Linked DNA regions of Homo sapiens: regions 1 and 2 are each linked to region 3. The links come from fine-mapping of genetic effects on gene expression. A gene starts in region 3. Each other region holds a variant in brackets. All regions are shown on one strand. Distances are between the middles of the regions.

Region 1 (2,765 bases), 63 kb after region 3:
CTTATGAACACTTGTCTCAAGGGAGCATTAGTGTTATTAGTGTTGCCTGGCATACTACTTTTTTTCCAGTCCATTTACTCTTTTTTTTTTTTTTTTTTTTTTGAGACAGAATCTCACTCTGTCACCCATGCTAGAGTGCAGTGGCACGATCTTGGCTCACTGCAACCTCTGCCTCCTGGGTTCAAGCGGTTCTCCTGCCTCAGCCTCTCAAGTAGCTGGGATTACCGGTGTGCACCACCATGCCTGGCTAATTTTTGTATTTTTAGTAGAGATGGGGTTTCGCCATGTTGGCCAGGCTGGTCTTGAACTTTTGGCCTCAAGTGATCGGCCCACCTCGGCCTCCCAAAGTGCTGGGATTACAGGCGTGTGCCACTGTGCCCAGCCTCCATTTACTCTTAAACTCTTCTAGATTGTGATTTCTTACCCTCTTTCTTCTCAAACCCTAGTACCTTTTCTCCAATCCTTACTCCCAGCCCCTAGTTAAATGGAGATAATAATAGCACCTATCCTTAGGGTTATTATGAGAATAAAATAAGTTAAAACATGAAAAACATTTAGAATAGTGCCTGACACATAAGTATTCAAGTGTCAGCTATTATTACCATTATTATTAAAGGTATATTTTAAGGTTTTGTTTTCTGGGCAGTTAACATTTCTCTTTTTAATGTAGACAGATAATAACGGTAGTGGCTGGAATAAAACACACAGATATATACATACATACATACATATATATAAACACATATATGTACACATAAGGATGAGATGCTTGACTTTAAGAAAATGAGAACATTTATTCTCAAATATATTATTCATTTTTAAATGTATCTATATATGTGAGCACTTGAATTTTTTAAAATATAAATATGATTTTAATCCTTTATGAGCCAGACTGAATAACATATTTAAAAACAAATTTAAGATTGCTGCCCATTGAAGTTTGACCCAAATAGTACAGAACATTATGAGGTTTGTAGAACCCTAAACGACTTTTTTTACTGAAATTACTAGGTATCATAATTTATTTAGGTTATATCTAGTATTAAAGACCCATGTCAGAGCCTACCCTTTTCATAGTACTTTCTCTGGCCACCCCAGTCTGCAATGATGGATTTTAGGAAAAATTCAACTCATATCATCTTGGTTATACTTAGAATCTATTGTGTTACTTAAGTTATAAGGTATTAGAGTTGGGAAGAAACATGGTGATCATGCACTTTAGCCCTCTCATTTGTGGGCCGAGAGGATAGACTTAGAAAGATTGAGTTGTCTATGGCTGTACTGAAAACCAGGGACTAGACCCAGGTCTCCCGACTCCCAGTTTAGCTCTTTCTTTTTTTCTTTTTCTTTTTTTTTTTGAGATGGAGGCTCGCTCTGTCGCCCAGGATGGAGTGCAGTGGCTCGATTTCGGCTCACTGCAAGCTCCGCCTCCCAGGTTCACGCCATTCTCCCTGCCTCAGCCTCCCGAGTAGCTGGGACTACAGGCGCCTGCCACCACGCCTGGCTAATTTTTTGTATTTTTGGTAGAGACGGGGTTTCACTATATTAGCCAGGATGTCTCGATCTCCTGACCTCGTGATCCACCCGCCTCGGTCTCCCAAAGTGCTGGGATTACAGGTGTGAGCCACCGCACCCGGCCCCAGTTTAGCTCTTTCTAC[T/C]ACAGCACAGGTGGTCTGAGACTGGACCTGTGTCCTCATCACTGATATCTAGGGTAATAAAGTTGGTAGCCTATACAACGTGCTCAGCAATGGCAGATTGCCGTTTAGGATGCTGGTCTTCCGAAAGAGTTAAAACAAATCTATCTTTTTTAGTTTTCAAAATACAATTTGCTTATATTAGAGAATTAGGCCTAATAATGTCTTTTGCCTAGCTGTAGATTTTTAAATATATATATATTATATATATAATATATCATATATGATATATATCTATATAATATTTTTTATATATATATTTTTTGAGATGGAGTCTCTGTCGCCCAGGCTGGAGTGCAATGGCGCAATCTCGGCTCACTGCAACCTTCCCCCTCCTAGGTTCAAGAGATTCTCCTGCCTGAGCCTCCCAAGTAGCTGGGATTACAGGTGCCTGCCATAGTGCCTGGCTAATTTTTGTATTTTGACTAGGGACGGGGTTTCACCATGTTGGCCAGGCTGGTCTCAAACTCCTGACCTCATGATCCACCCACCTCAACCTCCCAAAGTGCTGGGATTACAGGCGTGAGCCACCGCACCTGGCCAGATTTTTAAATATTATCTGAATATCAGCATCCTGTTTTATTCTTACAAAGTCTCTCCTTTAGAAATTTTAATCACTAATGTTTTTGTTTACTCTTTACATTTCTAATTGCCTGATGAATGTCTATACTTGGGTGCTCAGCATTCCACCCAAAAGTCCAATGATTAAAACTAAACTAATTATTCCATTAAAACTAACTTTCTCTAGGCTTTTCTAATTTTGAAAATGAAACCACCATTCTTTTAAATTCTCAGGTTCAAACAAAATATCTACAAAATATCTACGACTCTTCTAAATTCTATTTCTTTCTTTTCTTTTTTTTTTTTTTTCTTGAGATGGAGTCTCGCTCTGTTGCCCAGGCTGGAATACAGTGGTGCGATCTTGGCTCACTGCAACCTCCACCTCCTGGGTACAAGCAATTCTCCTGCCTCAACCACTCAAGTAGCTGGGATTACAAGCGCGTGCCAGCACGCCCAGCTACTTTTTTGTATTTTAGTAAAGACAAGGTTTCACCAAGTTGGCCAGGCTGG
Region 2 (2,765 bases), 560 kb before region 3:
GATTTGACATGTCTAGGTAAATGAAATTGTCATAATGATGTTCAATCTTGTTTAGGTTATATTTTTGTGAGTAATATTAATACATGTTCCAAAACTGTATGGGACTTTCTAAAATTCTAATGTCTAAGTTATGCTACCAATCATAATTAAGGTTGTTATGTTAACTTATTGTAAACCACAGAGAAAACCAAACTCCTTTGTCAATTGTGTTTCCAAGTGTAACTACCCTGGACATTTTTGCTATTCAGAGACAATTGTTGTCTTGTTTTAATCCTTTTCAAGAGATGATTTAGAATAAGCCGTAGAACTGTAACAGGTGCTCTCAAATACAGGCTTCTGATAACTTTGGAGATTGTGACATTGGAATAAAGGAAAATGTACAGGACTCATGAAGAGCTGAAATGTTCACGAATATCAACCAAAGCAAGAATTAACTAAATGGACTGAACTCAGAAAACTAAAGCAATCTTTTTGACTTTTGCTTGGAATATTGCTCATCCTTGTTTTGTTTCTCAGAGTCAAGGAAACTTATTTTGAACTATTTATGGCCTTTAATAATTAAGCAAGGTATACTTCTGTAACCAAAATTTGAAGCATGTTTGTTTCTCTCTGCCTGGTTCCTCTAAAATTTGAAAACTATCTGTGAGTATTCATAACTTATGGCAATATAGTTGTTTACATCAGTGCAATAGGAATCCACTTCTCTCTTGCAACGGGACACAATTGGAAAAACTGGTTACTTTACCAAGTCTTTGACTGGAAGGGTATGCTTTCCTTTAAGGAGTCAATCTTGACTTGCAGCGCCAATAAAATCCCAGTGGGGAAACTGGCCTCATACCCTTGTTTACACAGTCCCTGCACAGGGTTCCTATGGTCAGTAAAGAATGCCACTTTTAACAGGTCCAGGAACTCCAAGTTTATCTTGGAACCTTAAGAGGAGAGGATCACCAAACTCACAGGTATTTGAGGATAAACCCATGCCTGGGCTCAGCTTTAAAAGGTCTTATCTGATTCCTTGTGGAACAAACTTCCATCGAAGCCAATCCGAAAGGCCTTTGCGGAAATAATAATTCTTGCTGTACTTTATGCAAATAATCAGGCCAAGTATAAAAATGTAAAGTCTATTTTGCAAACAACTCAGTCCTGTCATGATTTGTTTGTTTGTTTGTTTTTAACAAAAATGAGGACTGGCGAGTGAGAAATCGTGTTTCAAAACCTA[T/C]CATATATTTGTCATTAAATTCTAAACTCACTAGTTGTTTTTAAGTTTTTACCTACATTTTAAGACTAATCCTACTTGTTCCTGTGAACCAACCGGCAGTCTCCAGCTGCAGCTCAGAAAGAACAAGAGGGATGGGTAATGTGAAAATCTGGATCAACATTCTAATTCTGAGGAATTATCCTGAAAACCCTGCCAGGTGATGGGAATGAATAGGATGCCCATCACTTGGACATTTCCTTTGGGAAAATAAGACCAAGGGAGCTAACAAAAGCCAAGCATCATGCACCCAAATCTTAGCAAGCATAACTATAGCTATCAGTCATCTGGGTGTGTCACAAGACATCCTTTCCTCTCCCTTATTGGAGGAGGACTCAGTTCTACGGTTTCACCTTAGCATGCAGCTTATGATAGGGAGTCCATGCAACTCCCCTGAGACACATTTTTGTTCCAAACTCAATTCCAAGCTTTGGGTCAAAGCCCTAGGAAAGAAAACTGGATCTAAGGGATCCAGAGGTAGACAACAACAGAGGTTAAAAGGCACAGCACAGGTGATCGTGGCTGATTCCTGCCAATTAAGCCATGCCCAAGCTTCCTGTTTGATGGATAAAGGCCACGTTAGTGTCCATGGCATAAATGAGGTCTAGGGAATTCAAGGCTACTGACAATAAGGGAGATAGGGCATATGTGGGTAAGAATGGCAGATTTTCACCCCCTAAACCCCCTGCTTCATGAGTGTAAGTCATTTTAACACCTATGGTGGTGACTGCCAAGGTCGCCTGGACTCGGGGATGGAAGGACAGAAGAGGGAAAGAGGACGCTCTTTCCTCTCTCTCTCACATACCCCAGATATCTGCTAGGAAGAGAAGGGAAGCTTCAAACTGAACTTTATAATAATTTTATTGGGCATAAACTCTCTTGAGCAGAATCCAGGTGTTGAACAGGAACTGCTGCAGAAAGAAGCACAGGAGCCATGGCCCATCGTGTGGGCAGACAGGGAGGGGCAGGTGAGGCCTGAAAGTGATGCTTGCTTTCTCAGCAGGGAAGCTTATAGCCTGGGGCAAGGTCTGAGTTCTCCCTGGGCTTCCTGGAGATTAATTTGCCACTGTTAGGAGGGCACAGAGCGAGCAAGACCAGCCTCACCAGCTGTGTGGGAGTTGAGTTAGGCCTATTGTTACTGGCTTTCCCCCACTTTCTTAGTGAGAGAGGTGGCCATAATCCCCTCTGGAACATAACCCCATTAGCCCAAGAACCACCCAGCATCCCCTACAGTGGCCATAGCAAGCCCTGCCCAAGGAGAGTCTGAGCTCAGACTTGTCTAACCCTGCACCCACCTCATGGTTTTTCTCTACCCATCCCAATAGCCAATCACAAAAGACATAAACTTTTGGGAGCTTCATGGCCCTGACCATTACCTGAGAAACCCAAATACATATCCTGGCCAACTTAGGGCAAGCTTATATCCCCATTCTACTATCGTAGCTGGTGCTCTCTTGAAAGCACCACCTCCTGGCTGGAGATCATCCACCTCAGGACATAATAGCAATTA
Region 3 (2,765 bases):
TCGAGACCAGCCTGGCCAACATAGTGAAACCTCGTCTCTACTAAAAATATAAAAATTAGTTGGGTGTGGTGGCATGCGCCTGTAGTCCCAGCTACTAGGGAGCCTGAGGCAGGAGAACCGCTTGAACCCGGGAGGCGGAGGTTGCAGTGAGCCAAGACCGTGCCATTGCACTCCAGCCTGGGCGACACAGAGAGACTCCATCTTAAAAAAAAAAAAAAAAAAAAAATATATATATATATATATATATATGTACATACATATAGCAACTAGCTCATAGGGTTACTGTGAGGCTCAGAAGGCTGTATAATTACAAGAATGCCTGGTATATAAGCCCAGTATATTAAAGGACAGCCGGCATGTAATGTATTTTGATGCTTTAAGGAAAAACATCAGGTTGATTTCATTAAAGTGATGGTCTGCCCAAATATTTTGCATATAACAGTATCTTTAAGCAGTCTAAAGGTAAAGATATTGTAGACTTTGGAGGCCCTAATGTTGGCATTGCCTCTGCCAATATTTAAGGTATTTGACGTATTGTCTTAACATGCCAAATACCTTAAAATTGCCCTTACAGGATTGCGAAGAAAACTGATGAGATGTACATGCTTGCGTCCACCATGTTTAGTTCGTAAGCATTCATTAATGTATTTTTTCCTTTCCGTTTCTTTGAACACTTCCTCAGTCCTTCATTCCAAAATTCCTGTGCTATCTCGGTATTCTCTGAAAACACTGCCAGACCTAAGATGCAAAGTGGCTTCCTTGACTACAAGATTTGGCTTGGCTTTGTCCATGAAACAAGGTCACCAGTGTCTCACCCTGGGGGCAAGTCTGGGCTTAGAGCTAGAACAGGACTGTAATCCTTGTATTTCAGGCCTTCTTTTAGCTTTAGTATGTAAAATGCTTTAGTATCTACTGATATTTAGCCATGCCTAAATTCGTAACAAGGACACAAAGAAATAGTCTTTTCCCCCTCTGTAAAGCCCACGTCATGTTCTTCCTTTACTGCAGGGCCTCTTAATGGGGCTTAAAACCTAGGATGGGTTAAGTAAACAATGTAGGTGAGTTTAGTGTGCAAACAGCTGAAATCACCGGCTGCATTTTAAGCTCGTCTACAGCAGCAACCTGCAGACACCTATTCAGAGAGATTACTAAATTCCCTCCTTCCCATTAATAAAAAGGACCAGAATATCAGTCTACAAAAGACACTGCGTTGCTGCGAACCAGCTCTCGCTTGCGCGATCAGGAAGAAGGGCGGCAAGGCTGGAGCCTCGGGACCGGAGAAAGGCAGCCTGCTTGTGACGTCAAATCAGCGGACTCTTATCTTGGCTTTAGGCCGGTTCCGGTTCCCCGGCTTTCCGGGCGCGAGCGTGTGCGAGCGCGGCAGCGTACTGCGCGTGCTCCGCAGAGGGACACGGGAAGGTTGGGTCCGGCTCTGGAGGAGATGCGTGATTGGCTGACGCTGTGCTCGGGGGTTCCCTGGCCCTTTCGGCAGGGGTAAAACAATAAGAGGGGGCGGTGGCAAAGGGGGCGGGACGTCCGTGGTCCTTGTCGCACGTCGCAGCGCCTGGCGCCCGGGAAGAGGTGGTTGTGAGGCAGACGAACTCGCGGCTCTCCGGCTTCCGAGGCTTCCGAGTTGTCGGAGGAAGGGGGCGGCGAGCAATAAGAACCCGCCGCACCCGGTCCTCAGCGACTCTTCTGACCTCCGCGCGACGTACCCGCCGCCGCCGTTGGCTGGAGGTGTGTACGGGCGCCGGGAGGGGAGGTCGGTGTGGTGGTCGGAAAGGGACATTCCATTCGCGCTCCGCGGCGCGAGGCAATCGTCCGGTGTGTGAGCCCGGGAGCCGGAGGTGTAGCGGCAGAGACATTGTTCTTGCCGGCTCCCTACGGTGCCGTGTGTGCGTGAGAGAAGACCAGTCTTTCCTCTAGGTGAGGGGTGGGAGGCCGCCTGGGAAGGGAGGTGACCCGCGAGCGTCTTGCGGGCAGAGGGCTCCGAGTGCACAGGTGGGGTTGAGGTTTATTGGGGATGAGGTGGCGAAGTGGGGGGGGAGGCACGCAGCAGCTCCCGAAGGCGCGCTGATGGAAGCTTAATACAGGAAGTGTGGGAGCAGGCTTTCTGGAGGGGATGTTTTAGGGTGGGTAGCCCACCGTTCCTGTTTCCGAATCGTTTTCGGCTCTTGTACCTTGTTCCTTCGGAGCGGAGAGGCCGTCGCCACCCCGCCCGTGGGGGGAGGGGAAAAGAGGTTGTGTCGACGGAGGCAGAAGCGACGCAGATGCGAAAGTGGCGGCCTCCGGGCACCATTTCTGTGCACGGAAACAGAATCCGGGTTTGAAGGCAGCCGCCGCTTCGCTTACCCAGTACCTAGTGTTCCGTCGTGTTTGACCAACCCCCCTCTCCCTGCCACCGCGGGTTTAATCCGAACGTGTTCGGATACTGGAACTGTAACGTGCGCCTTCTTCGTCCCCCTCTTATGCAGACGATCCCTTATTGACTCGGGAATGGCTTTTGGGGGATGGGTTCCCGCTTTTGTTGGGATGGGGGGACAGAAAGGAACAGAAGCTTCCCTAGATTGTGTTGATTTTGTTAGTGGAATCTGATAGAATTTTTCCTGCGTCTCTAAAAGCAGATTTCTTAAGATGGCCCTTTGCCGCTTTGGGGCGAATATAGATTTTCGTCTATAATTTCCTGCATAGATCAGCTTTTTTCCCCAAGACATACTTAATGTTCTAACGGATTTGGGGGGTGGGAGGAGAGTGCCTTTTCCTTC

The links.
Region 1: its variant is fine-mapped to the expression of G3BP2 in whole blood (INTERVAL, PIP above 0.99).
Region 2: its variant is fine-mapped to the expression of G3BP2 in cerebellum (GTEx, PIP above 0.99).

Annotation. Positions count from the first base shown.
Region 1 is chr4:75,608,796-75,611,560 of GRCh38, reverse strand. The region is part of intron 3 of CDKL2 (cyclin dependent kinase like 2); the gene reads left to right. Among named protein-coding and RNA genes, the nearest start is that of CDKL2, 20 kb to the left of the region's middle. The variant T/C (reference allele first, on the strand shown) is at 1,659.
Region 2 is chr4:76,229,934-76,232,698 of GRCh38, reverse strand. It overlaps a transcript of SCARB2 not described here and a transcript of FAM47E not described here. Among named protein-coding and RNA genes, the nearest start is that of SCARB2, 17 kb to the right of the region's middle. The variant T/C (reference allele first, on the strand shown) is at 1,220.
Region 3 is chr4:75,672,180-75,674,944 of GRCh38, reverse strand. It overlaps G3BP2 (G3BP stress granule assembly factor 2), which reads left to right and starts at 1,534. Exons shown (of 12, transcript NM_203505.3): 1 at 1,534-1,737. RefSeq lists enhancers at 1-698, 1,435-1,724, 2,005-2,244, 1,677-2,654.